Homo sapiens: one gene and its partners. The protein of the gene in region 5 interacts with the protein of the main gene of each other region in a pairwise test. Each region holds a gene or a part of one and is shown on either strand. Other genes may lie near its edges. The genes, in order: ROR2, YWHAB, ERBB4, LMTK2 and CDC25C.

Region 1 (5,882 bases), on a different chromosome or scaffold from region 5:
CTTGACAGCCCTCTGTATAATCACCAAATAATCGCCAAATCTGTAATGATGGGATTGAACTGCATTCGTGGGTGGAGTTAGGGCTCCTCAGGGACTAAATGCCAGCTTCTGGGTTTTCTGCCACGCTGGAGGACACAGCCTCTGCTGGGTGTGCAGGCAAAGGGGCCTGTCTGCCTCCACTGTCCCCAAGCTCAATTGTTGTAAGCCAGCCTTTCACAGGTGAAAATGGGGTAGTGAGCCCAGGGCAGGCTGATGCATTCCTTAGAGCCCTGCCTTGGCCAGCTTCTTCACCCTTACCAGTGTCCAGCCATGCACCCCAGGTGCAGCAGATCTCTCCCCAACACCCCCACTTTGTTCCCGAACTCACCCCATCTTCTAACCACCAAACTGCATCCTCTGACATCTTGCCCTTAAAAAACAAACCGCCCTACCAAAGGGGGCTCTGGATCTTCGGGTTTTTCTGCTCCCCCTTATCACAGAACCTTCCAGAGTTGTAACGCGGCTCTCCTCCCACTTTGCTGCTCTCACCCTCTTGGCTTTCCGCATTTTACCAACTGTCTCCTCCAGCTGCAGTTCACAGAGCTGAGCTGACTCCCTCTTCCGGGACAGCCTTCTCCCCAGACAGATCTGGGACATTGGGAAGCCTGGGGCTCGGTACTGCACTTCTTGGCCTGCGCTCTCCACACATGGCGGGTCCTTAGGATCTGCTTTTGCATCTGAAGTCTGAACCCTCTTGTCCTGGAAGAAGCACCTAGCGGAGTGAGCTAGGGGGCCGAGTTTTCCTTCTTTCTTGTTCTGCTTCTGATGTTTCTAAGTGAGGCCCTGGGACCAGGGACTTTTCTGTGACTGCTGCAAATCAGAGCAGGTGATGGGCAGGCTGGCCTGCTGGTGGGGAGCCTCTCCAGGGTGGTGTGCGGGGCTCGGGGTTGGGGAGTCTGGGGCGGGGCGGGGCATCAGGGGGCTGAGTGGGCAGTCTGGGATGCCAGGCTGGGGGTGGGGACTGGATGAATGTCAAGGGCGCAAGGTGGGTCCCCCGCTAACGCGAGTCTCGCGGGCTCTGCAGCGGCCTTCACCATGATCGGCACGTCTACGCACCTGTCGGACCAGTGCTCACAGTTCGCCATCCCATCCTTCTGCCACTTCGTGTTTCCTCTGTGCGACGCGCGCTCCCGGACACCCAAGCCGCGTGAGCTGTGCCGCGACGAGTGCGAGGTGCTGGAGAGCGACCTGTGCCGCCAGGAGTACACCATCGCCCGCTCCAACCCGCTCATCCTCATGCGGCTTCAGCTGCCCAAGTGTGAGGCGCTGCCCATGCCTGAGAGCCCCGACGCTGCCAACTGCATGCGCATTGGCATCCCAGCCGAGAGGCTGGGCCGCTGTGAGTGCCCGAGGGCCCGGGGCGGGACCGGGGGGCGCAGGGAGTGTAGGGCCCTTGAAATGTGTATGGGGGTGTCGGTGAAGCCCAGGGAGCCCCATCTGTCCAGGCCCCACAGAACCCCCTTAGCAGCCGAGGGCCCCACAGCCTAGGCCTCCATTCCAGCAGGGCAGCAGGCGGGGCCTCGGATCAGGGGCTTTGGAGCCATTCAGCCCCAGGCTCGCATGTGGGCTTGCACTGTGTCCAGCTGTGGGACTCAGGTGAAGTCCCTCCACCTGCTTGAGCCTGGGATTTCCCTTCTCTGAAATGGGAGTGATCTCACTTCCTGTGGAAATGGCTGTTGCGGGCATGAGAGGAGACAGGGCCAGCTTCCTAACTTGCCCGACGGTCAGCACGCACTCGGGCCGCCAGGCGAAAATGCAGACTCTCAACTCCTGCCCCAACCTCCTGAAACCTGGAGGATCAGTCCCCAGAAACCTGTAGGATCCTTAGCCTTGGATGAATGTGAGGCCCACGGAGATGCTGCAGGACTGGCCTGGGAGGGCACCTGAGAAGAACCTGTAACAATCAGGCATCACTAGGGAAGGAAATACAGGGAAGCACCGTGCACCTTTCTACAGGTCCCTGAATCGTGGGGCCTAAGGGATGAGCGTGGGGGAGGGGGACAGTTCTGAGCCCGGGGCCTGGGTGTGGCCTGTTTGGGGTCTGCACAGGACGAAGAGCATGCTCCCCACTGCCCCTCTTGCTGGCAGCAGCCCCTGCCCTCTGGAGGCTTAGTAAACCCCAAGTTGTGAGCCCCAGCAGGGTGGCCATGGCCAGTCAGGATGGCAGACACAGGACAGGGAGCGCTGCTTATGTCTCCGAGGAAAACCATTGGCTGACATCACTGCATCCATACGGGTTGTTGCCTCCCTGAGGAGTGAGACCTAGGGAACGGGCCACCTCCGCCACAGCTCCGGGGCTGTATTTAGCATCGTTGGCTAATCTGGGGGTCCAGGAATGGCCAGGACTCCTTACCAGGACCAGCCAGGGCCTGGTCCTTGGGCCCGTTGCCTGCATTCAGACCCTCATTGTGACCCTGGACAAGTTGCTAAGCTCTCATATCCTTATATTCCGTGGGGATGACACCAGTACTAACCCGTGGGGCTGAAATGAAGGTCAAATGAGGCAATATTTAGGAAGGTGGTTTTTTTGTTTGTTTTGTTTTTTTGAGACAGAGTCTCACTCTGTCACTGAGGCTGGAGTGCAGTGGCATAATCTTGGCTCACTGCAACCTCCACCTCTCAGGTTCGAGCGATTCCCCTGCCTCAGCCTCCTGAGTAGCTGGGACTACAGGCGTGCGTTACCACATCTGGCTAATTTTTGTATTTTTAGCAGGGACGGAGTTTCACCATGTTGGCCAGGCTGGTCTTGAACTCCTGACCTCAAGTGATCCACCCGCCTTGTTAGCCACGGTGCCCCAGCCAGGAGGGTTTAGAGCAGCGCCCCACACATGGTAAACACTACAGAAATGTTCACCAAATGCACACCCCAACCCCAGGGTTCCTCCATGGAGGTGGCGTGGCCTGCACTGTTCTCACCCATGGCTGAGCAGGGTGTCCTGAGATGGAGGGGCCAGGCCCTTCTTGCTTGCACAGTTGGCTTTCTTCCTAGAGCAAGTTGATCCTGAGGCTGGGGAGACATCCCCATTCTGGTGGGGTGGTGGTGTGCAGGTGCCTCGTGGGTCCCAAGAGATGGTTCTGGGGCTGTGGAATAACTTTAGACAAGTTTCCTTCCCCATGCCTATCCCTGATGTGCCCTGCATTTAATTTGTGGGCTTGGGACTTCATTAAGCCATTACTTTTAATGCCTCTTTTCTGGTAAGTTATGTAAAATCCTTGGATCTTTTGGAAATTCTAGTTTGGGCATGTGTAGGCAGAATGGTTTTGTTGTACCCCGGAGGTTTTCCTAACGTGTTTTCCTTGTTCAGACCATCAGTGCTATAACGGCTCAGGCATGGATTACAGAGGAACGGCAAGCACCACCAAGTCAGGCCACCAGTGCCAGCCGTGGGCCCTGCAGCACCCCCACAGCCACCACCTGTCCAGCACAGACTTCCCTGAGCTTGGAGGGGGGCACGCCTACTGCCGGAACCCCGGAGGCCAGATGGAGGGCCCCTGGTGCTTTACGCAGAATAAAAACGTACGCATGGAACTGTGTGACGTACCCTCGTGTAGTATGTATTCTCTCTCTCTTTTTTTAATGTGTTGATTGTTGAGTGAACCTTGTGATGAGGGCGTTCTGTCCTGACCTGGGTTGGGGTGTGCCTCTGTACGGTGGCGACCAGAGACCCCTGATCTTACCACAGTGACCATTTTAAATAAAGCTGTTGGGCCACGCGTAGTGGCTGATGCCTATAATCCCAGCACTTTGGGAGGCCGAGGTGGGCAGATCACTTGAGGTCAGGAGTTCAAGACCAGCCTGGTCAACATGGTGAAACCCCATAAAAATACAAAAATTAGCCAGGTGCGGTGGCACATGCCTGTAATCCCAGCTACTCAAGAGACTGAGGCAGGAGAATCACTTGAGCCTGGGAAGCGGAGGTTGCAGTGAGCCAAGATTGTGACACTGCACTCCAGCATGGACAGCAGAGTGAGACCCTGTCTCAAAAATAAATAAATAAATAACGCAAGTTATTGGTTGTTATGAAAGTAACATCTGACCATTACAAGACATTTTAAAATATAGAAAAGTCTGAAGAGTAATGTCAGATCACCCCTAATGTTACCACCCAGTAGTGACTTGTTTGCGTTTTGGCCCACCCCCTTCCATCAGCCCTTTTCCCATGTATGGATGGTCCTGGGATATTCACTTTGACATTTTGTTTCTCCATTAACATTATCTCCCAGTGCGGTGGCTCACAACCTGTAATCCCAGTACTTTGGGAGGCCAAGACGGGTGGATCTCTTGAACCCAGGAGCTTGAAACCAGTCTGAGCAACATGGCAAAAACCCGTCTCTACAAAAAATACAAAAATTGTCCAGGCGTGGTGGCACACCTACTTGGGTGGTGGAGGTGGGAGGATTGCTTGAGCCCAGTAGTTCAAGGCTGCAGTGAGCCATCATGGTGCCACTACGCTCCAGTCTAGGCAACAAAACAAGACCTTTTCTCAAAAACAAAAAACAAAAAACACCATTATTGCTCAGTAGTTCCTAATATTCGTAAAAATATTTCCCTTCCACCCACCAGCTTTTGAGCTTTTCACTGCTTCTCAGATTTTACACTTAGGTTTGGTGGAGTGAGGCGAAAATAGAATTCATTGCTTGTCCTCATTCCTTGCAAGTGTGTCTGTAATGTCATGAATATGGAAGCTCACGTGGCTGATGGTTGACAGCTTCGACAGTTCTCACCTCTGTCTTAGTCATGCCCGGTTCACCAGTCCAGGCAGCAGGGTAACCAAGGCTGGGCTGGGAGCTGGAAGCAGCAATTGGTGAATGAGTGGGCACCCGCGGATAAAGAGAGAGCAGCCGGTGAAGCGAGGCTGGGCTCACCATGCACCTGGAGATCTCCTCCTGGGGTGCAGGCCCGCGTGTCTCTACTCCGAAGTGCAGGAAATAAACACTGGCACTAATGACCTTCCTGATGTGTGATTCAGCAGCTCCAGATTTGGCATTGCCTCTGGCTCAGCAGATCAGACACAAATCTTCAAGAATGTGTTCATTATGGGAGAACAAATTTTAAGAATGAAATTATCAGTCATTCAAATTGCGGTCTAGGCACTCTGGAGCACTCCAGACCTTAAAGCTGTCCTGCAATGAAGGATGGCCCTGTGCCCTGTAAGGAACAAAAGCAGGTTGTAGGACAGAACTGTGTTAGAGGTGCTTTTTTGCTTATTGTTTTGTTTCTGGCAAAAGGAAAATGAGTGGGAGTTTGTGTGTGAGCACACACAGGCTCCTGACTTTTACGAGGTTTTGGAAAGATGGATATCAAACTTTTAGCAGTGATTTCCCCAGACCTACAAAAGTGTTCAAATACAAGACTTTTTTTTTTTTTTTTACAGTGAGTAGGAATTACTTTTGTAATTAAAAATAAATCAAAGCATGAAAAAAATGTATGATTTTGGACCAGTCAATTCTTAGAATCTTGTATCGCAGGTTTGTACTTACAGGGCATAAATGGAAGGATATTTATTGCAGAATCACTTGTGAGAGCTAAACATAAAACAGACTGTTTATCAGTAGGGCTGGATGGGGCAGTTGGAGACGCCTGTGCTGTGGAGTGGCATGCAGCTGTGGGAGAACACACATATCTATCTGCTCCAACATGAGCTGCTGTCCAAGAGATTTTATTCTGCCAAAAAAACAGGAGCAGGAAAATATGGATGACACGATTCTATTTAAAATCAAGTTCATTTAGGCCGGGTGTGGTGGCTCACGCCTGTAATCCCAGCACTTTGGGAGGCCAAGGCAGGCGGATCACCTGAGGTCAGGAGTTCAAGACCAGGCTGGCCAACAGTGCAAAACCCTGT
Region 2 (5,882 bases), on a different chromosome or scaffold from region 5:
CTGTGATAAGGGCCATTTTAGAAATAAGCATAGGGAAATTGTTATGTGCCTTTCTTTTAAAAGTCTTTAAAGAAAGCAGAGTACGTGTAAAATAAATGAGGTACATAGTAAGTTTCCCTTCACTGGCTGACCATTGGTTTTTTAAGTTTTGTGTGGAATGTACTGTGGTTGCCATTTATTTGAGTGCTTACTGTTTTATATCATAAACAGGTTTACTCCTTACAGGAACCCTAGTAAGTAGATTTGCCTATGTTTTTTTTTTTCTTCACAGAGTCTTGCTCTGTCGCCTAGGCTGGAGTGCAGTGGCGTGATCTCAGCTCACTGCAGCCTCTGCCTTCAGGCTGCCTCAGCCTCCCAATTAGCTGGGATTACAGGCGCCTGCCACTATACCCGGCTAATTTTTTTATATATTTAGTAGAGACGGGGTTTCACCATGTTGGCCAGGCTGGTCTTGAACTCCTGACCTCAAGTGATCACCCTCCTCGGCCTCCCAGAGTGCTGGGATTACAGGCGTGAGCCACCACGCCCAGCCCAGATTTGCCTGTATTATGGATGAGAAAACAAATTCACAGAGGTCACATAGCCTGTGGACTTGGTGTGCGGTACTGGTAAATCAGACTGATAGGCTTCATTATGTCAGTGGGCCCCAAACTGTAGAAATTATTCATAAGGTCAACCAATTGGGCTGTCTTTATGGATCAGAATTAACATAGTGTCTTTTGGATTGATTACTTAAGCCAAGAAGTCAATTTATTGTCATATCTACCATTAAGTCACATGTGTAACCTTGCGCCTGTCACTTAACACCCTCAGTAAGTTTAATCATGGCTAATTGGACATAATTAGCAATGATATGCAACAGCTGATGTGAAAGAGGGAAGGGATTTTGAAATAATAGAAATGCAGTTTCTCTCCAAATTCAGTGTTCACTGGACTTAGTGCTAATGACTTTGTATTACAGATATGCTGTGTTTTGTTTCCTAACAAAGAACCTGCAAATGTTTGAATGGAATTAAATTTATTACAGGACTCTAAATTTTATATGTAGAATGGCACACAGACAGTTTTATAGTGGGTGTTTTTTAGTGAGTAGTTTTCTCTGAGAGCCAGGAGTGTTTAACTTTTTCTGGGTAACACCCACTAACCACCTGGTCCCACTGACTTTCTCAGTCCCTTCTGCAGTAGCTTGGCATCTGATTTTTCTTCAGCAGAGAGACTCCAGAACTAAAACTTCTGCTGTACAGTGCTGTGGATGCTCTATCTGGAATGGTACATCTGTGAATGCTGTTCAGAATATGTGATCAGTTCCTTACCCCATTGAAACATTCGAGCCTAGATTTTTCAGATTTTCTTGTCAGTTTTCTTCCTTATTCTCATTTCTTTATCTGCTTTGGCCTTTGATTTTTATCTCATCTAGAAAAACATACATGCACTTTATTAATAACATCTCTTTTTAAGTCACGACCTAGCTACCTTTAAACCTATTTCCTCTAGTTCTGTCTGGTTGGCTTTCTAAGGAGAGGCATTGTAACCCTTAAACGTGTGCTGTTTTTTTTTTTAATTGATGTGTAATAGATATACATGTGCTCTTTTCTTGTGTTTCTACCACTAGAGTTTAAGCTCTCTGAGGGGAGGACTACACTGCTTTCTTTTAAATTCCTCTCAATGAATAATCCAAAGAGTTCTTAGAAATTTGGTAGTTTTTCATTTTGTTAGTTATTTCAACACACATTGGATTATATGTGTTACATTTTTGTGAGGTAGCTTAAGAATAAAAAATAAGAATGGCTTATGAGCCTTTACTCTAACCAGCACTATATGGGCATTTTATGTTCATTATCTTATTTGATAGCTATTAATGTCTCTTTTTAACACTGAGAAAACAGATTCAGGTAAGTTATAATGTGGAAATGTAGAAAAATCACCTACTTTCTCTTTAGAAGCTCAGATGTGTATGTAAGGCTTGCTAAAAGCAGACCCCACCGTATATTTTATATGTATAGAGCTTGGGTAATTCCTGACATATAATAATGGAGTCTTCATCTGAAATTTCTAACAAATTATTAAATTCAAAGCTTATTATTTTCGAATCGAGCATGTTCTTTGCCTTGAAAACAAAACATAGCTGAAAGCCAGTGCTTCTAAAGGCCACAGCTGTCATTTTCAACCCTTTCTGTCTTTGCACTGCCTTTATTTAAAAAAAAATGGATTAGCAGTAGGTAGTCTTCTTTTTCTTTTCTTTCTTTCTTTTTTGATTCTTCTCCTAGGATATCTGCTCTAGCCACTGGGAAATAACTTCTCAGTATTTTGACCCTGACTAGAAAGATGTCCCTTGGGGAAGGAATTGGGATAGAGGGGCTAGGCTGTTTCCTAGATCCTCTATTTTCAGCATTTATTATCTGATTTAGGATTTTGTTTCTTTGAAGAAAATCCTATTTTGTGAGTACCTTTAGAATTATTTTTCATAGCTGTTTATCTGCACTAGTGGTTTCTCTTTAAACAGAAAAACACTTTTTTTCTTAAAAAAAGAAATAGTACCCAATTTTTAAAAAAGTAATACATACTTGAAGAAAATTTAAAAAGATAGGAAAATGAGGATATAATAATGTTATTACCCAGAGACAGAACCAGTGTTAACCATTTGGTGTAACCTTTCTGTTCGGGTTTGTTTGTTCTTTAGGGGATATTTTACAGAAATAAAATATTGTGCAGCCTCGTCCCTCCAGCCCCCATTGCTCTTAAATAAATCTTTTCATGACATTAAATCTCTTCTTTTGATGGCCACGTAATCTTGTACCATCTATCTCCTTCCCTCCCCTGCCTTTTTTTTTTTTTTTTTTTTTGAGACGGAGTTTCGCTCTTGTCGCCCAGGCTGGAGTGTAGTGGCGCAGTTTCGGCTCACTGCAACCTCCACCTCCTGGGTTCAAGTGATTATCCTGCCTCAGCCTCCCGAGTAGCTGGGATTACAGTCATACACCACCCCGGCTAATTTTTTTGTATTTTTAGTAGAAACGGGGTTTCACCACATTGGCCACGCTGGTCTCGAACTCCTGACTTCAGGTGATCTGCCTGCCTTGGCCTCCCAAAGTGCTGGGATTACACACGTAAGCCAGTGCACCTGGCCAGTCTCCTTATTTTTTAAACCATTCCCATATTGTTGGATATTTAGATTTGCTTCCATTTTTTCACTAAGCAATCTCTGCGTTTATCAACAAATGCTTCCCAGTCCTGACTTGCTGCATCCAGTGGCTTAGAACAGATTGACAGCCATCATCATCATATAGGTGTGCTGGAGAGCTCCTGTTCTCAAGCACGTCAGTCTCTTCCTGAAATATGCCCAGCACAAGGAAAATCTCTTGGCTTACTGCAGGGTTGGGCCTTTTGTGGCCTCTAATGAGTTTGCCTGCGCCAGTATCTTGATGCTTCTGCAGTGGTGCCAGGCCTGACGATGAGACTATAGTCTTTCAAAAACTTTTTAGGAGACAAATAAAGAGTATCTTGCTGACTTTTTTTTTAGTGGGAACCTCATTCAAAGTCTTGGAACAACAGTAGGTCTTGATTAAAAACCATCATGGCATATCACTAGAAAATTCAATTAGAAACTAATGGATAAACTTCAGTTACATTTAACATATATGTCCATTTTAACATAACATACTAACTATCTGTACAAGATTAATCTAGACTTTTGCTTTTCCTTCTCACAAAATTGTATATTTAAAAAGAAAATTCAAGCTTATGGTTTTATGGGCTGCTACAGTGTAATAGTCGTGGAGAAGAATAATAGTACTTCAGTTTGATTTTGCACTATGCATTTTTCAAGGAAGATTTCCACATTTAGTATTCTTTAATTCCCTGCGCCTCATCTTCACAGCAACTCTACTGAGGTAGATGCCATCTTCATTTTATGGATTGGAAGGCTGAGATTTAACATGCTCACATGGCTGTATAGTGGCACATTGCGCTGTGACACACAGTCCTGCTGCCTTCCGACTATACTACATATAGGTACTCTGTGTTCCTTGTGCTCTCCCAATAATGATTTGTAGAAAAACTTGATATTCATTTGCATATGAGTTTTGTGCTTAGCACAGTTATAAGCATTAAATGTGAAACAAACATGAAGCTTTCCTTTGAGGGCACACACGTGAAGCTGTAAGTGGTACAGTACTCATCTGTATCACAGAATGGCATAAAGAAGTCCTAGACCATGTAATAGGCTATAAGTATATTCAGAGTCATAGGCAAGGTAAATCAGTGAGGGCTAGGGCAGTCAGGGAAGGGTTTGTAGCCCTAGAAGAATGGGTGGAGTTCAGATAGGCAGGCAGTAAATAGGAGAGCACTCTAGATGAAGGGAACTACAAAAGCAGTTTCAGACACGTTTGAGCATTGTGTTTATAGGGCATGTGGTGCTGGCCAGCCTGAGAGAAAGGTACATGTTGGAGAACAGTGGATGAGAAAGCCAAACAAGTAAAGAGGAGACAATTTATCAGGAATTTGAAAGCCAGGTAGAGCTTAAATTTGATGGAGTAGCCAAAAGGGAGTCATTGGAAGTTACTGAGTAAGGACAAAGGCAAGACTAGAGGTAATTTAGGAAGAGTAATTTTTTGTTTGTTTTGAGACAGGGTGTCTGTCACCCAGGCTGGAGTGCAGTGATGCAGTCATGGCTCAGTGCATCCCTGGCCTCCTAGCCTCAAGCGATTCTCCCATCTCAGCCTCCCAAGTAGCTGGGACCACAGGCATGAGCCACCACACCTGGCTAATATTTTATTTTTTGTAGAGACAAGGTCTTACTATGTTGCCCAGGCTGGTCTTGAACTCCTGGTCTCAAGCGATGCTCCAGCTTTGGCCTCCAAAAGCACTGGGATTATAGATTGATCTGCCATGCCTGACTGGAAGAGTGAATTACTCTTTGAATTTCAGAGGGCACAGAAATTCAAGAAACTAGGTACAAATGTAATGAAGATTTAATATGCTTGTGAGGCTAATAGGTGCTTTGAATTATTTGAGAAAAGGGAGAACTCTACCAACTCTGCAGTTTTATGCTTACATTTCAGGATCAGTTTGTTCATTCAGCAGATATTTGTTCCTACCAATTATGTACAGGATGCTGTGGGAGATATGTCCAAAGGAGCTTATGGTGTAGGAAGGGAAATAGGAGACACTATGTAAGTAATTTTAGTACTGAAGAAACGTGGTAAGACATTGACAGGTATCAGCGAAATGCTTTGTGAGAATATATTCATTAGAGCAATGCCGTCCCATAGGAATAGAATATAAGCCACATGTAATTTAAATTTTTCTGGTAGCTGCATTTAAAAATTTTTTTAAAGTGAAATTGATTCTATCTGTTTTTACTTAACCCATTATGAACAAAATATGATTTCAATATGTGGCACTAGCCACATTTTAAGTGAATAGCCACATGTAGCTATGGCTATGGCTTAAACAGCTTAAGAAAGGCTTCATGGAAGGGATGGTATCTGAGCCACACTGTGAAGAATCTTGTATGCAGAGTAAATTTGGGAAAAGCCATTCCAGGTAGAGGGAGTGGCTTGGTGAGCAAAGATAGAAAAGCATACTTTGTATGTAAGAAAACCATTTTGGCAGAAGCACATATGATGTGGAAGGCATGATGTGGGGGTCTGGAAGATAGGTTGGCAAGCTTTCACTGATAGGGGAGGAAATCTGACTCTGCTTTTGGCATCAGGGAACTTTAAAGAATTTTGAGCGGGAAGTGACTTGAGCAGAGTTATAGGAAAATGGGTCTTACAGCAAAGGCATGGAGGGGGCTGTAGATAATGAGTGACTGAAAGCATTGCCACTAGGGCAAGATTTTGGATGGGAGATTTATTGTAGATGTAGAAATAGGAACAATTTCA
Region 3 (5,882 bases), on a different chromosome or scaffold from region 5:
ACATCTTTGCAATTAGAAATTAAAGCCAAAAATAGGGGAGCAAATATAAAGGAATCGGTCAGAGCAAAACAAAATGAAAAAAACCAAAAAGTGTTGAAAACATAATTACTAGTTATAACTTTAATGGAGATTTTTAAATTATGAAAGTTGAGTTGGCCATTCTTACTTGCTAGGACAGAAACTGCTGGGGAAAGAAACTGGATTCTCAATTTCAGACACCATCATATGTTATAGAAAATGTTATTCTTTTGTTCTAATGGAAACTTTATTATGATTTCCAGGGATGCTAAATATGCACACATCAGTTCCTGCAGATAGGAACAGATAGCATGGGTGTTTCAACCATCTGCTTTAAAAAAAAAAAAAAAAAAGAAGAGGAAGAAAGAAACAAAGAAAGAAAAAGAAAAAGAAAAAAAGTGACAGCTAGTTTGATAGTAGGCAGCATTGCCTTACATTTTCTGGTCCTTCTCTAGCTGTTTCATTCTCCTGACCAACCCATGCAGAGAAATGAAGAAACATTGTGGTTCCTCCTATCTTTCTCTTTCAGTCTTTCCCTCTAATGTTCAAGTTAGGTAAGCACATAACTATCATTGCATCTCTGTATCTTCCACTGGGAAGTGTCAAAACTACTGGCCTTGGGGTAGAAGGAAGACCACCAGAGAAAGAGAGGGGGGTGGGGAAATTGGAGCAGGTGTGTCTCTCCACCTAAAAAACCACAACTGAGCTTACACCACAGTATTCCGGTGTCTGTAAGGTGGAGGCGGCAGCACAGTGCCTGGCTTCAGGGAGAACTCAGAGAGGTATTCAGGATTCTCTGCCACAATAGGCCGGATCCGCCCATTCTGTTTATAAAAATATTTTGTGCTGTACTCCTGCAGGTAGTCTGGGTGCTGAAGGGTGCTCCGAGGTGGCAGGCTGTGGTTCCAGTAGTCAGGGTTGTCAAACGCTTTCTTGGCCTTCTCTGGCATTGACAGTATGTTGTTCTTCAGGTACTCAGCTTTTCCCAAGGTGTTGGCAAAGGTGTTGAGGTACAGTGGCTCATTCACATACTCATCCTCGGCCTTGGGTGGACCATTGGATGCATTGTGATATTCGGGATTATCCAATGCTTGAAGGTCTCCATTTTTTCTCCGAGAAACAAAAGGGTTCTCCTCCACTGGATTCAGGTATTCTAAAGGAATAAAAAAATATCAGCTAACCTCTAGTTTCTGGAAAATATTAATCAGACCAAGGTTATACATAATGGTTAGCTTCTTTGTCTAGAACAAAAAAACCCACAGATTTGTTTTCATGATTTCTCACAACAAGTATTTGTGGATCACCATTGTCTTATGAAAAAAAGAGTAAGTGGGTCAAAAATGTTTATAATAAAACAAGAAGCCAACGAGGCCAGAATCAGAATTTCTATCTCCTAAATTTTTCTTTCTTTCTAATTGCATTTGTCTCTTCTGCATATGGGGCTGGTTGTTTCAATGTTTTTGTTTTCTAAAAGTTATTTATATTAGGAAATAAGACTACCTATTAGGATTAAATAGTCTTTAAATATACAGACAACTTAACTTCTATAAAGGATATTGAAAAAACAAGAATCTATAGCTGAGTTCCATGCCAAGATGAATAGATGGAGTGAAGAAATCATGTTTTTTAGTCTCTATGGTTTGCTATGATTGCCTATACTGGTAACAAGGATTTAATTGGAGATGCTTCTGAAAAAGGTTTTACACATGGAAAAGAAAGCATCAAAGGAAAAAAATTCAACTAAAAAAGCAAATCTAACAGATAGCTAACATGCCTCTAGTTGACCTGCTTGACATTACATATACTTCTACTTAATAGTAAAGTATAATTATAATATTTCCATTGACCAATCATAATCACAAAGTAGCAAACTATCAGCTTGAATTATATAAAATAAAATAAATTTTGTATATTGAAACCAGTCAATTAGTGCCTATTTTGTACGGATCAATCTAATAAATCCATCTAGTATAGGTATTGGCCTAAAAGGTGCTAATAATTATCACCATTCTCCTGAAGCTTAATTCCACATCTATGTCTATAATATAGACTGCACATAGACATAAACACGCATGTATTGTAAGTCCTCTGACAGTCCTCTCTTTTACTATATACACAAAGCCCTAAGCTATTCCTATTTTGAATTCAAGGCATGAAGAGGGCACAATTCTTTGTTGAGAGGCCATTCTGAAACAAACTTTCTGTCTTTTATCCTTAGCCCAATAAGTAGAGAGAAAAATCCTATTAAGTGAGGATTATTTTTCTCCAAATATATATATACAGAATAGGTAAGTATTTAGCATCATTTATTCAACTTAAAGGGCAGTAATGAATATCCCACTATCATATATAGGCCTTTACAAGACACTATCATTTCATCCTCCCAATTCTGTGAAAAAGAAGTACAAGACTTATTTTTCCAGCTTTGTAGACAGAAAAATGAGATTAAATGATGTGTGCAGGATACAATTAGTGTTGGGATAGAATTCAGGTCTTCTAACTCCTCTTGCATAATCTTCTTATTCTACTGCACTGTTTTTTATTATTGCCCCTGCAGGAGTTGGGTGAACTTTATGCTTAGTAACAAGTTTTAATTTGACAAGTGTATGAAAACATTTATAAGGAATGCAGAATTTGGTCTCTCTTACCAGATTCCTTAAACTTCTTAATTGAAAGAATAGGAATGTCTACACTAAAATTCTGTACTCTCTGAGTACGAGGTTAGACTATAGCAACCTTTTATAGAAACGGAGCTTAGTGTTCAGAGATAAAATCTGAGAATACAGTGTGACTCTATAGGGTGACTTGCTTTTCTCTTCACCTTACCTTTCCTCAATGCAATCTACTTATATATTGTCCTCATGCAAACTTATATAGCTGTCCAATAACTTTACGGTTGGAGTGAAAATCTCCCCAGAAAAGATTCTTCTTTGGGGTGAATCTGCCAAGTCTTCACAACGTCTACATTTGTGTCATTACTAGGCTACTATGAGCATCCAAACTCTTCATTACATTTTTATATGTATAGAAGTTTTAGATATGTAAAAATTTTATCTAGACAGATATATTTTAAAAGGTTATTTACAATTAGAGATCTCTAAATTTTACTTTAAAGGAGAGAACATAACCATATACCAGGCCCTTCTCAGAGTCTTAAAATGTAGTTTACTGTTGACACTAAAGACTGCGAGAGACATGATCATCATTTTTTAATAACAATCATCTATCTTCTCTGTTGTGATACTGTTAGCATAGAAGAAGAAAGGCTGTTTTGTTGCAAAATTGAAGCATTATTTGATTTGGGTGCTTAACATTTCTACTACTAACTTTACAAAATTATTGTTATGCTTTGTAAAACCACAGATTATTATTTTCAAATCTTGGTGGTATGCTTGTAAGTATATACAGGGTCAAACCTTTAATTTTTGAAAAACGTCATATAAGAACATAATATTTTCCTATAATAAACTAGGTTGTTTAAATGTCATCATTTAAATGAGTCAAACAAATCTTTTATTAGTGCCATCAAAAGCATCAGGCACTTTTGCCAACAATACCAGTCTTTCTGATCTCCGCAATTAAGTCCAATAAAGCTATGGTCCTGACACTTTGTAGTATGCTACTTCATTCAAATATTTCAACAAAATATGTTTAGAATAGTGCTTCTCAAGACTGATTGCTGTATGCAGATAGCCTGGGGATCTTGTTAAAATCCAGATTCCTATTCAGACGGGGCCTGCCTGAGATTCTGATTTATATAAATAATAATAAATAATGTGGATGCTGCTGATTCAGGGACCATACTACAAGTAGCAGTAGCCTAGGCCTTTACTGGATCACAAATGTTGTGCTGGTCAGCTATCTGGCAATTTCTATTCTGTACTTTGTTTATCTTGATGGAAGTGAACTTCGAATGGCGATCGTTTCTGAATAATCAGTTCATACCTTGTTTGGGTTTGTCTCGCATAGGAGTCATGTAACCTTCCTCATCCAGCTCTCCTCGTGGGCTCCGTTCTGGGGCAAACACGGTGGGGTCAGCACTGTACCTCTGGGTGCTACTGTCCTCTTGGACATGGGGTGCCACTGGCTTGCGTAGGGTGCCATTACAGCAGGAGTCATCAAAAATCTCAGCAGTAGCACCCTGTGCCACAGGAGCTTCTGGAATTGTGCTAGTTGGGGCTCTGTAGGGCACAGACACTCCTTGTTCAGCAGCAAAACCTCCATCTCGGTATACAAACTGGTTCTGTTAATAAGAGAAACATATGTGGAGAGAAGGCGTTGTTAGAAATAGTTTAAAAATGAATGTTAATAGCCACAAGGATATCAAAGCCAGTCTTTCAGAGAATAGTCATAGTATTTACTGGTTTTTTTTCCCCTAGTGGCTAATGGAGTTACAAACTATAAACACCTAAAATTTCCACTTTTCTTAAAAGATAAATCATCAGAAAATAATTTTGAAATACACATTCTAGTTTTATTAACCAACTGAAACATATTCTAATAAAATGTATTTGATGCCCTTTTCCCACAAGTGCCTATATTTAATACAAATTTCAAAGTGAATTTTTATGATAAATGCAAGTGTCATTAATTATAGACAGTTGTCATTAAGAATAGAAGTACATGGATATATTTTGAATAATCCTATGTCTTTATTCCCTTCGAAAATTCTGTGGTTATTATGAATTTGAGGCTCTAGTACCTAACTAGAGGATCATCACTATAATTCTGACTTTTTAGTACATGACCAATAATCAGGGAAGTAAAGATCACCTCCACATCCAGAAGCATAATTTATGTGCCCAGGTAAATCCTTCAGATAAAAATTGAAAGCTACTGTTGATGCATGATATCTCAATTTCGGATTATCAGCTGAGATAAAAACACATCTACAAAGGCAGCTACACGATGTACACCAAATTCTTAACTCACTGTTGGCAAAGGCAAAATGAGGAAATTATGCAGAGACGAGAGAGGAAACATGGTAAGCAAAGACCGAAAATCCTAAAAGATGAAGGTTGATTGTGAAATACTTACTCCTGACATGGGGGTGTAGGCAGGAGGAGGGCTGTGTCCAATTTCACTCTAATAGGAAAGAAAAATGGAATGATGGATATAATAAGAGGCAATATGAATGAAAAAATTAAAAAAAGAAACGAAAAAGAAAAGCCACATGGGTCGTATGAACCAAAGGGGAAAAAGTGCACAACAGTGAAGCTTCCTAAGCAGCACAATTGTATGCATTCTGACCATAAGCAAGCTTATTTATATGTTTTGAGGAAAATAAATATTTTAATTCAATCCCTGAAAAGGAAAATTGTACAGAAAAAGCAAAATTTTTCAATGGATTAGAAAAGTAAATAATAAACATTCTTCTGATTAACCCTAGAGGAAAGGAAAAGTAGTAAATGAACTATAGCTGTAAATGGGAAACAGTTTCCTTCTTTACATGTCAAAAGATTGAAATGGCCATATTGTCTGCTGTTATTTTTTCTCTTAGAATAAATGTTTCTGGAAGGAGATGGCAGGAGATTTCGATTTGCCTGGACTAATTTTTGCTATCAAGCTACATTTATTTTTCACCACTTCAGCAAAAGGTAAACTCCTTAGTCTCTCCTGATTAAAAGGTATATGCTATTTTATCTTCAGTCTCACATTTTTTTTGTTTTTTTTTTTTAAGTTAAGAAAGAGCAGAAAATTTGGAAAATCAATTCCTTTCCTGAAAACATGCTTTAGATTCCCCTTATGGTATTTATAATGAGTCAAAATCAGATTTCAGTTAAAGAAACAACAACAAAAATACATCTGTATTTTTATAGCTTAACGCTCCATCCTATGGGCTAACTGAAAGAGGATATAAAAAT
Region 4 (5,882 bases), on a different chromosome or scaffold from region 5:
CCCACCTCGGCCTCCCAAAGTGCTGGGATTACAGGCATGAGCCACTGCGCCTGGCCCAGATCTTGGTTTCTCATATCACTCTCCAATCAGAGGAACCAGAGCTCCTTGAAGAAAAGGCTGATTCTAGGACTGGGGCAGGGAATATACAAGATGAACCTGTAGCTTCTTGAAATGCCAGAAAATAAGGAAATGCTTAAAAAAAAAATGAGGATATGTCAGCGGGGCACCCAGGAGCTAACTGAAAGAGCTCTCGATGGCCAAAGCTGGTACAATGTAAGAACAAATAAACAACACTGTGGAATCAACTCGAAGTATAAAATAAATATCCATGCATCCACACTGACATAAGTAAATGCTTGAATAAAGAAATAAACAGAGGATCGCATGGGCCCGGGAGTTCAAGGCTGCAGTGAGTCATGACTGTGCTACTGCACTCCAGTTTGGACTACAGAGCAAGACCTGTCAAGGAAAGGGAAGGGGAAGAGGAAGAAAAAAAGAAAAGAAGAGAATACGCGAGTCTCTTCAACAGAACTCCAAAGAATGTCTACAGACACTTCCTTGCAAAGAGGTGGAGCACAGCTTGCCACTCATTAAGTGTTGACCCTGCACTCGTACACCATGGGGAGGGGAGGACAGAGTAACTTTACAGGGTGAAAGCTGACAAACACTACTCAGCCAGGTGATCAAGTGACAAGTCATGCTGTGTGATGTTGTGTGCACACACCCTTGATGTGATGTGATGAGAATGGCACTTTAACTCTGTGGTCTTCCTCCCAGAAACCCACACCCCCAGTCTAATCGTGAGAAAAACATCAGACAAATCCCAGTTGAGGGACATTCTACAAAATATCTGACCAGTCAGTACTCCTCAAAGCTGTCCAGGTCACTCTAAACAAGGAATGGACTGGGGGAGCCCAAGGGGCATAACTACTAAATGTAATGTGGTTTCCTGGAAGAGAAAAAAAGACACTAGAGAAATATTAAAGAAACTGAACAAGCTGTGGACTTATTTAATAGCAATATATTAATACTTGTTCCTTAGTTGTGACAAATGTACTACATTAATATAGGATGTTAACAACAGGGACTGGGTAAAAGATACACAGGAACACTCTGTACTATCTTTGCAATGTTTCTGTAAATCTAAAATTGTTGTGAAAGAAAAAGGTTTTAATAAAAAAAAAACTATAAATGGCCTCATCCCAGGTGAAGGTCTGTGGCTGCATGGGAAGTCAAGTCCGCAAGAGAATGAGAGGCTTCAGCTCATACCCTCTCCTTCACACACACACACGCGGACACAAACACACACACACACGCACAAACACACGCACATGCACACACACACACACAGACACACACTGAGGTACTGGTTTGGAGAACTTAGTTCTCTAGTATCATCTTCATCATCCTCAGTTACAAATGCTGACAGAGCATCTACAACCTGTGACATACCATCCAAACACCAATCCCAAAAATGTGCTATCCCAAGGATATAAGACACGGTCCTTGCAAACTAGGTAAAGAGACAGGACTTAAACAATGATGTAGGCCGGACACTGTGGCTCACACCTATAATCCCAACACCGTGGGAGGCCGAAGCCAGAGGACTGCTTGAGGCCAGGAGTTTGAGACCAGCCTGGGCAACATGGCAACTTTACTTTTGTAGACCATCTCTACAAAAAGTAAAAATTGGCCAAGCATGGTTACATGCGCCTATAGTCCCAGCTACTCAGGAGCTGACATGGGAGGACTGCTTGAGCCTAGGAGTTCAGGGATGCAGTAAACCATGACAGTTCACTGCACTCCAGCCTGGGCAACAGAGCAAGACTTTGTCTCTTAAACAAACAAACAAAAAACCAATGATATGAAGATATAAAGTGGTATTTGGTATTTATTAAGTGCAAGTAGTAGACTGGTATGATGAAACCAAACCTTTCTTTTTTTGCTTTTTTTGAGATGGAGTCTTGCTCTGTCACTAGGCCTGGGCACAGTGGTGCGATCTCAGCTCACTGCAACCTCCGCCTCCCGGGTTCAACCTCAGCCTCCTGAGTAGCTGGGACTATAAGTGCCCGCCACCACACTCAGCTGACTTTTTAGTAGAGACGGGGTTTCACCATGTTGGCCAGGATGGTCTCAATCTCTTGACCTCGTGACCCGCCCGCCTCGGCCTCCCAAAGTGCTGAGATTACAGGTGTGAGCCACAGCACCCGGCCCAAAACCAAACCTTTCTTGATTTCAGCCAGCAGTAATTTCTCTCTCCTCTCTCCCGCCCTCCCTTCCTTCTTTTCTTTTTTTCTTCTCTTTCTTTCTTCTTTCTTTTTCTCTTTCTTTGAGTCTCGCTCTGTCGCCCAGGCTGGTGTGCAATGGCATGATCTCGGCTCACTGCAACCTCTGCCTCCTGGGTTCAAGCGACTCTCCTGCCTCAGCCTCCTGAGTAGCTGAGACTTTAGGAGTGTGCCACCATACCCAGCTAATTTTTGTGTTTTTTAGTATAGACGGGGTTTCTCCGTGTTGTCCAGGCTGGTCTTGAACTCCTGACCTCACGTGATCCACCCACCTCGACCTCCCACCGTGCTGGGATTACAGGCATGAGCCACTGTACCCAGGCAGTACATTTTATGTTCTTTCCGTCCCATGTCATTTATAAATCAAAAAATGTGTTAGTGTACCACACATTCTATACCTTAAAACATCACATAAGTTGACCTTTTAAGAGGATGAAATGAGAATAAACATCAGTTCCAATGTTTTCGTCTGGCACCCCATGAAACATCTTGCTCCACAGGTATACACTCTCAAGTTCACCAAGGGAAGGAATCTCTAAGGGCTGGGCCAGGATCAATAACTCAGTAGGGAAGGTGGGTCCGCAAAGAGGTTTTAAAAAAAATAAAAAGATGGCAGCACTTACAGAAGCAGGAAAAGAGGCAATTGCAAACAGGGAGAATATATGGAGAGCCAGAAGATGGGAATTTGCATGGAATATTTTGCAAGCGATAGGCAGATCAAGTTAGCTCTGAAAAAAGTGCTGTGGAGGGTGGAGGCAGGAACAACAACAGATGCGCTGCAGCAGACACCCCGATGCGACCGTCTCCCTTCACCAGATGCAGGGAGACAGGGGCTACTTTAGCCATAGCACAAGGTCCTGCACACCTAATTTGACCTGATGGTAACTCAAGCCTTTTAAAATATTAAAACTACCCAGGTGCAGTGGCTCATGCCTGTAATCCCAGCACTTTGGGAGGCTGAGGTGGGAGGATCACTTGAGTCCAGGAGTTTGAGACCAGCCTGGGCAATATAGTGAGATCCCATCTCTATAGAAAAAATATGTTTTACATCAGTCAGGCATGGTGGTATCCACCTGTAGTCCCAGCTATTCAGGAGGCTGAGGTGGGAGGATCGTTTTAGCCCAAGAAGTAGAGACTGCAGTGAATATGACTGCACCACTGCATTCCAGCCTGAGTGACAGAACAAGACCCTGTCTCAAAAAAAAAAAAAAAAAACTTTAAAAAAACACATATAATAAAATGCAAAACCTACCTACCAAATTGTCAAAAATTAAACAGAAGGTTTACCACCACCACCCCCTCCTACCAAAGGCCCAGGTGGGCAGAGGAATACAGAGTCACTCTTTTGTGGTTGGGGAAGGAAAAAAAGGCAGAGAAAATGAAAGATACTGATCAATGCTGTGGCTGCGGGTACCTGAGACATCTGGCATAAATAGTGCTCACTTTTCCCACCTGAATCACAATACAATAAATGACATTTGGAATCACTGCACTGAGCTAACTTTTGCAAAAAAAAAAAAAAGAATTTAATAATGAGGTTACTTTTCTGATATGCCTGCTCTTTGTGACAAACAATTGTAATGCCAAGGCAGGGCTCCGAATTAGCCACTTGCTACAATTTTAAAAGACATCAATCCAATATTTTGCTCTGCAGACATGCTAATTTTACCATAACTTCCCCAGTTTTCTGCAACAGTATCTTCATAAGAAGATTCAAAGAAAAGCTGATAATGGAATCTAAAATCCCTAGAGGGAGCAGTCTTCTAGATCAGAGATGGTTGTCCAGCATCTCCTCCGAGAATATTCCTTCCCTCATTTTAGTAAATACAAAGTTTTAAAACAGTAATAAAGCACTGCTAGTCGACTATAAAAGCACATGATTTTAAATGAGAAAGGGCCAGGTGCGGTGGCTCACACCTATAATCCTACCACTTTTGGAGACTGAGGCAGGAGGATCACTTGAGGCCAGGAATTTGAGACCAGCCTGGGCAACACAGTGAGACGCCAGCTGTATTAGTCCATTCTTACAGTGCTATAAAGAATCGCTCAAGACTGGGTAATTTATCAAGGAAAGAGGTTTAATTGACTCACAGTTCCACATGGCTGGGGAGGCCTCAGGAAACTTATAAACACGGTGGAAGGGGAAGCAAACATGTCCTTCGTCACATGGCAGCAGGAGAGAGAAGTGCCAAGCAAAGGGGGAAAAGTCCTTACAAAACCATCAGATCTTGTGAGAACTCATTCACTATCACAAGAATAGCATGGGGGTAACCACCCCCATGATTCAACTATCTCCCATGGGGTTCCTCACACGACATATGGGGATTACGGGAACTACAATTCAAGATAAGAATTGGGTGAGGAAACAGCCAAACCATATCACCATCTCTACAAAAAAATAAAGTGGGCATGGTGGCACACACCTGTAGTCACACACCTACAGGTAAGTGTCTGTAGGTGACACACACCTACTCAGGAGGCTGAGGCAGGAGGATTGCTTGAGCCTGGGAGTTTGAGGCTACAGTGAGCTGTGATTGTGCCATTGCACTCCAGCCTGAGTGACAGAGCAAGACTGTTTTTCCCTGAAGTCTCTTTCTTCTGTTCTGCAGTGGGGAGCTGAGGTTGTGCTACCTCAGTTCTCATCTCTTCACCAGCAAAAACTCCACAATTATTTTGTCTTTTCTTCTTTCTTTTTTCAAAGCCCTCTTCTCACTTCCCTCACCCTTGTAATGGGCCTAGATTTGGGAGTTCACGAAGAATCAGGATCATGATCATAATTATAATCACAGCTGGCCTTACATGTCCTAACCAAGGACTGGGCACTGTACCTGCCTCACACCAGCCCTGTCCCACAGAACCTTTTTCCATAATGGGAAGTTCTCTTCTGTGCTGTCCAATGCCGTAGCCACCAGCCACCTGCAGTTATCAAGCCCTTAACTTGTGGCCAGTGCCACTGAAGAACTGAAGCTTTCGTTCTAAAACGTTTACATTTAAGCATCCACAGGGAGCTAGTGGCTATTGTACTAGACAACACAGGTTTGGACCTTCACAAGACTGTAACTATTCTCTCCGTTTTACAGATAAACCAAGTCTTGCCTGGTGCAGTGACTCATGCCTATAACCCCAGCACTTTGGGAGGCTGAAATGGGAGGATCTCTTGAGGCCAGGAGTTGGAGGTTGCAGTGAGCTATGATCGCACCACTGCACTCTAGCCTGGGCAGCAGAGCAAGATCCTGTCTCTTAAAAAAAAGAAAAATGAGAGGGAGAAAGAAAAACGTCAGTCACATTCATCTCTCTGGTTTCTAAGAGAAAGCATCAGCTCTGGGCTTGTTCTACTACAACCTGGGTTAATCAGGGATGCCTCATGACAATACACAATTGTGTTTAAGATCAAGAAAAACTTTCAAGTGCTCATGATTCCTTTAAATAAATTAAAATCAGCATCTGTTCACATGCAAGAGCTTTAGTCATCTTCCACTTTAAAAACAGGTTTATTACATAAAAGCAGACTAACCCAGATGATCCTAAAAATTTCCAGCATAGTTCTCCAACACTACGAATTTCAAGTAGTAACAATACCAGCTTAGACTTAAATAA
Region 5 (5,882 bases):
ACAAAATGGATCATAGCTCCAAATCTAAAACCTTAAACCATAAAGCATCTGAAGAAAGGCCTGGCACAGTGGCTCATGCCTGTAATCCCAGCACTTTGGGAGGCCGAGGCTGGTGGATCACCTGAGGTCAGGAGTTCGAGATCAGCCTGACCAACATGGTGAAACCCCATCTCTACTAAAAATAGGAAAATTAGCTGAGCGGGGCCAGGCGCGGTGGCTCATGCCTGTAATCCCAGCACTTTGGAGGGCCGAGGCGGGCAGATCATGAGGTCAGAAGATCGAGACCATCCTGGCTAAGATGGTGAAACCCCATCTCTACTAAAAATACAAAAAATTAGCTGGGCATGGTGGCGGGCGCCTGTAGTCCCAGCTACTCAGGAGGCTGAGGGAGGAGAATGGCATGAACCCGGGAGGCAGAGCTTGCAGTGCGCTGAGGTCGCGCCACTGCACTCCAGCCTGGGTGACAGAGCAAGACTCTGTCTCAAAAAAAAAAAAAAAAAAAAAAATTAGCTGAGTGGTTGGGCACGGTGGCTCACACTTGTAATCCCAGAACTTTGGGAGGCTGAGGTGGATGGATCACGAGGTCAGGAGTTCGACACCAGCCTGACCAACACGGTGAAACCCCGTCTCTACTAAAAATACAAAAGTTAGCTGGGCATGGTGGCAGGCACCTGTAATCCCAGCTACTCGGGAGGCCGAGGCAGGAGAATTGCTGAAACCTGGGAGGTAGAGGTTGCAATGAGCCGAGATCGTGCCACTGCACTCTAGCCTGGGTGACAGAGCTAGACTCCATCTCAAAAAAAAAAAAAAAATTAGCCAAGCATGGTAGTCAGCACCTGTAATGCCAGCTACTCCAGAGGCTGAGGCAAGGAGAATCACTTGAACCTGGGAGGCGGAGGTTGCAATGAGCCGAGATCATGCCATTGCACCCCAGCCTGGGCGACAGAGTGAGACTCTGTCTCAAAAAAAAAAAAAAAAAAATCCAAAGAAAACGGAGACAATTTTTGTGACCTTGAGTTGGCAAAAATTTATTAGATACAATGCTTAAAAATGGATACAGACTGGGCGTGGTGGCTCATGCCTGTAAACCCAGCACTTTGGTAGGCCAAGGCGGATGGATCACTTAAGCCCGGGAGTTCGAGACCAGCCTGGACAACATGGTAAAACCCTCTCTCTATAAAAAATACAGAAATTGGCTGGGCATGGTGATGCGCATCTGTAGTCCCAGTTACTCAGGAGGCTGAGTTGGGAGGATCGCTTGAGCCTGAGAGGCAGAGGTTGCAGTGAGCTAAGATTGTGCCACTGCACTCCAACCAGAGTGACAGCGAGACCCTATCTCAAAAAAAAAAAAAAAAAGATAAGTTTCAATTAGCTAATTAATTCCAAACTCTTAGTAATATGGCTCTTAGCATAATTATTATGGTGTGTTCTAGAGAAGCCCCTTTTGAAATCCTCATCTAGCTTTCCCCTGCCTTCTCAGGGGAAAATTGAAGTTATATGAAGTCCTGTCTGTCATGGAGACCAGGCACCCTACTCCTCAGTGCCTCACCATATCTCCTTTCCTACCCTACCTTTGGTTGATCCATTCATGCATCACTGGCTTCGTGGCCTTGACTGTATCTCTTGGCTTCTTCCTTTTGGGCTTTGGCTTCTGCTACTGCCTAATTATTTCTCCATCTTCCAAGTTAGGCAACCAAGAGAGGGAACCTGATTGGCCTAGATTATTTTTGCTTATTCTAGACCACTAAATAGATGTGTTCAACCAGCAATATGGTCCAGTCATCAGTGTCTGGGGGGTAGGGTGGATGGGGACATAGGGCGATGTTTGGAAGGAGTCTAAGGGTACGTATAATGTGGACGGTACCATCAGCTGGTATCACGAACAAGAGGTAGGACCATGTGTGTGATAAACAACATAATATCCATAGCTGTCATAAAGCAAAATGTTGTTATTCTTATTTCGTTCTTCCAGAAACCATTGATCATCAAGCTGCCTTCCAGTTATGGCTCTCTTATTGTATAGCCCCCCTCCTAAATCAGTCCATAACAGGTAGTGCGATAAGTGTTTAGAGAAGGAGCTTTTGCCTGTTCTCTAGGTGAGAGGTAGAGATCTCAAAGTATGTGGCAACAGAGGATAGAATTGTGGATTAGTTGGAAGGTGTTATCAGAGGTCATTTGATAGACCCTCAACTCTGAATATAGCACCCAAACCATGCCTTTCAAATAAACAACAGTCTATCCTCTTATACTTTAATCTGTTCCTGTGTAAGCAATTCTCAAGGCTAGTTCTTCATGACGTTTGAGCCACTTTTTTTTCCCTGATGGGTTTCATAGTATCCATCCTATAATGGTCAGCATGCTATTTGATTTTAGTGTGTCCTTTTTTCTTGCATGATGCTTCTTTTGCTATTTTTCTTCTTGGCTTTTCATCTTTAGGTTTGTTGAGGTCCTTAAATCCTGATTGTCAATGTCCTAGGATCCCAGAGACAAAATGGACTTATGTTTTTTTTTTTTTTTTTTTTTTTGGTCACATAACTGGAGGGACTGAGCTTGTGTTTGCTTTCTGTTAGAAGAACTGGTGCATCTAAGACAGTCAGCTGCAGAATTTGGTTTGGCTAGTTAAGACGTCCATGGAGATGGAATATCATGCAGTCCAGGTAGAAAGATATTAACGGGCCTATGAAGACAGGTTGCCTACCCAAGGCTTCTCAAACTTGAGAAATCACCTGGGCATCTTGTTAAAATGCAGATTTTAATTCAGTAGGTTTGGGGTGTGGCCTAACATCTGGAAACCTGCATTTCAAAGAAGCTCCCAGGAGATGTTGTTGCTGCAGGTCTGCAGACACACTTGGAGGAGTAAGAACTAGGGGGTTTAATATTCCCAAACAGGTGAGCAGAAGTGGCCTATATCGCTCCCCGTCGATGCCAGAGAACTTGAACAGGCCAAGACTGAAGCAGGTGGAAAAATTCAAGGACAACACAATACCAGATAAAGTTAAAAAAAAGTATTTTTCTGGCCAAGGAAAGCTCAGGAAGGTAAGAACTTTTTAAGATGAAAATCTTGTTCATCTTCTATCTCATGTCTTTGCTTTTCTGGTATGAGGATTGTTTTATTATGCCTTTTTTGTCTTCTTCCTCTTTACTTTTACTTTTTCCTCTTTGTTCTTTCCATCTTTCTGTCTTTTCTACATCTGTATCCACGTGAAATATATATATATATATAAAATATTTATATAACATAGATACATAAAGTATATCTATATTGTACTTTTAGAAATGTTGTCATAGGCCGGGTGCAGTGGCTCACGCCTATAATCCTAGCACTTTGGGAGGCCGAGGCGGGCGGATTGCCTGAGCTCAGGAGTTCAAGACCAGACTGGGCAACACGGTGAAACCCCGTCTCTACTAAAATACAAGAAATCAGCTGGGCGTGGCAGCATGTGCCTGTAGTCCCGGCTACTCAGGAGGCTGAGGCAGGAGAATCGCTTGAACCCGGGAGGTGGAGGTTGCAGTGAGCCAAGATTGTGCCACTGCACTCCAGCCTGGGCAACAGAGCAAGACTCCGTCTCAAAAAAAAAAAAAAAAAGAGAAATGTTGTCATCATACCGTCTTCCCAACCCTTTTTCTTAAGATCTGAAAGAATACAAGGGAACTTTGGTATGGATATTTTACTGCTGTTTTACATGCAGTCTGACAGAAACAACATCATATAGCAGGTTGGTTTTGTGGAAAGCAACTTCTGAAAAACTTAGCCTTTGTCCTTTACCCTCCCCAACTTTAAAAAAATTAAATAGATGGGAGGATCACTTAAGGTCAGAAGTTCAAGACCAGCCTGGTCAATATAGCATGACCCCATCTCTAATAAAAAAAAATAAAATAAAAAATTAAAATTCTAAAATCTTTGGATATTTTATAAAATCAACTTATTTATTTATTTATTTATTTTCCCCTGAGATGGGGTCTCACTCTGTCACCCAGGCTGGATTGCAGTGGCATGGTCTTGACTCACTGCAGCCTCAATATTTATTTATTATTAAAAATAATAAATAAACAAATGGAGTCTCACTCTGTCTCCCAGACTGGAGTGCAGTGGTGCAATCGTAGCTCACTATAGCCTTGGCCTCCTGGGCTCAAGTGATCTCCCTACCTCAGCCTCCCATGTAGCTAGGATTACAGATGTGCGCCACCATGGCCCACTCCATCCACTGGTTTTTAAACCTTTAACATGAGGATTGGGTGTGGGGTGGGAATCTTGTCATCTTCAGGGCTTATGTTTAAAGAAGACAGTCTCTCTGTGTGACATTACTATCACTCAGATGCTGGAGGAAGATTCTAACCAGGGGCACCTGATTGGTGATTTTTCCAAGGTGAGTTTGGCTACACCCATCCTGTATTTCAGTGAGTCATTTTGGATCTGAATCTTCTCTGTTTGCCGAGAATGCCTGGTGTAAATATGCATCCTCACCAAGTACTCTTTGGTAACCTGACAGTGCTCTAGTGGTAGATCCAGGCCCTAAGCCTTTCCAGAGAGAAAGTATTTCTTATTCTTCTGGGAAGATCCAGAACAGGGGAAAGTATGAGACTTTTTACCTTTTTTCTGTTTAAAAACATATTTTAAAATTATGTAAATAATACTTGGTTGTTACAGAAAAAGTAGAAAATGAAGAAATTTATCCCAAACTTTATTAACCAGGGTAATATTGCTTAGTATATACTCTTTTTTTCCCCCCTACTGTCTGTGTAATTGCAGAAGGTACATATTCTTACAGATTTTTTTCTGTGTTTTCACAAACACATATACAAATACAGTTTTTGCTTTTCTACAAAAACAGTTTATATTGTTTTGTTATCTGTTGTTTTTCCTCTCATTTAATAATTATATCAGGGGCATCTTTTTTCATATTAATAAGCAGTTATGCTTCATTCTTTCTTTTTTTAAGATTCAAGGTCTTGATCTGTTGCCCAGGCTGGAGTACATTGGCATGATCATAGCTCACTTCAGCCTCGAGCTCCTGGCCTCAAGAAATCCTCTCTCTCCTTGGCTTCCCAAAGCACTGAGGTTACAGGCATGAGCCACCATGCCCAGCCCATTTCATTTTAATAGCTCCATATTATTTCTTTTTTTTTTTTTTTTGGCTGCTCATAATTTCTTCATAAATCCCTTCTTGTAAGATATTTGGTTTTACAATTTTTTCTTATGAATGATACCAAGATGAATATATTTGTAGAGAAATCTAAAACTTCGTACACATCCTTGATTTGTTCTTTAGGATCAGTTCTTAGAAATGGACTTGATGTATATGCACTTTATAGAGACACTGATTTTTTTGAAGGCCTCTGGGGTTTTAAGGGTCACTTGGAAAGAAGGACAAAATAAGGGTCTTTGATCTCAAACTTGGGTGTGGAATACTTGCTGTTATTTCAGCTCTTGTGTATTTCTAGGTATGTGCGCTGCCAACCGTGTCAGGGAAACACCAAGATCTGAAGTATGTCAACCCAGAAACAGTAAGCAGATTTCTGGAGATGGTAACTGGTTACATAAGCTACCATCTGGTCTCTTCTGTCCCTAAAATGCCCATTTCCATTTGTATTTCTTTCACTGTGTTCACTCACACAGGCTCCTTATTCAACTGAAGTTATATTGAAGGACTCATTTTTTTCCCCATTCTTCTCTCTCCTTCGTTTTTAGTTAAACAAATGATACATAGTTTTTGTAAAAGGGAAAAAGGGAGGGGTCAGGCATGGTGGCTCACGCCTGAAATCCTAGCATTTTGGGAGGCTGAGGCAGGCAGATCTCAGGCACTTGAGGCAGGGAATTCGAGACCACCCTGGCCAACATGGCGAAACCCCATCTCTAATAAAAATACAAAAAAATTAACCAG

Evidence for each region.
Region 1: the proteins of CDC25C (region 5) and ROR2 interact in a two-hybrid assay, tested with the Homo sapiens proteins (one study listed by BioGRID and IntAct).
Region 2: the proteins of CDC25C (region 5) and YWHAB interact in binary tests that used the Homo sapiens proteins (3 or more experiments, as listed by UniProt).
Region 3: the proteins of CDC25C (region 5) and ERBB4 interact in a two-hybrid assay, tested with the Homo sapiens proteins (one study listed by BioGRID and IntAct).
Region 4: the proteins of CDC25C (region 5) and LMTK2 interact in a two-hybrid assay, tested with the Homo sapiens proteins (one study listed by BioGRID and IntAct).

What each region holds. Positions count from the first base shown.
Region 1 is NC_000009.12:91,728,618-91,734,499, reverse strand, and holds part of ROR2 (tyrosine-protein kinase transmembrane receptor ROR2 isoform 1 precursor), read left to right. Parts: intron 1-1,063; coding exon 1,064-1,378; intron 1,379-3,344; coding exon 3,345-3,590; intron 3,591-5,882. UniProt on the Homo sapiens protein: Tyrosine-protein kinase receptor which may be involved in the early formation of the chondrocytes. It seems to be required for cartilage and growth plate development. Phosphorylates YWHAB, leading to induction of osteogenesis and bone formation.
Region 2 is NC_000020.11:44,890,873-44,896,754, forward strand, and holds part of YWHAB (14-3-3 protein beta/alpha), read left to right. Parts: intron 1-5,882. UniProt on the Homo sapiens protein: Adapter protein implicated in the regulation of a large spectrum of both general and specialized signaling pathways. Binds to a large number of partners, usually by recognition of a phosphoserine or phosphothreonine motif.
Region 3 is NC_000002.12:211,382,890-211,388,771, forward strand, and holds part of ERBB4 (receptor tyrosine-protein kinase erbB-4 isoform JM-a/CYT-1 precursor), read right to left. Parts: intron 5,104-5,882; coding exon 5,056-5,103; intron 4,262-5,055; coding exon 3,964-4,261; intron 1,172-3,963; coding exon 726-1,171; 3' UTR 1-725. UniProt on the Homo sapiens protein: Tyrosine-protein kinase that plays an essential role as cell surface receptor for neuregulins and EGF family members and regulates development of the heart, the central nervous system and the mammary gland, gene transcription, cell proliferation, differentiation, migration and apoptosis.
Region 4 is NC_000007.14:98,111,859-98,117,740, reverse strand, and holds part of LMTK2 (serine/threonine-protein kinase LMTK2 precursor), read right to left. Parts: intron 1-5,882. UniProt on the Homo sapiens protein: Phosphorylates PPP1C, phosphorylase b and CFTR.
Region 5 is NC_000005.10:138,289,124-138,295,005, reverse strand, and holds part of CDC25C (M-phase inducer phosphatase 3), read left to right. Parts: intron 1-2,889; coding exon 2,890-3,036; intron 3,037-4,265; coding exon 4,266-4,367; intron 4,368-5,442; coding exon 5,443-5,505; intron 5,506-5,882. UniProt on the Homo sapiens protein: Functions as a dosage-dependent inducer in mitotic control. Tyrosine protein phosphatase required for progression of the cell cycle. When phosphorylated, highly effective in activating G2 cells into prophase.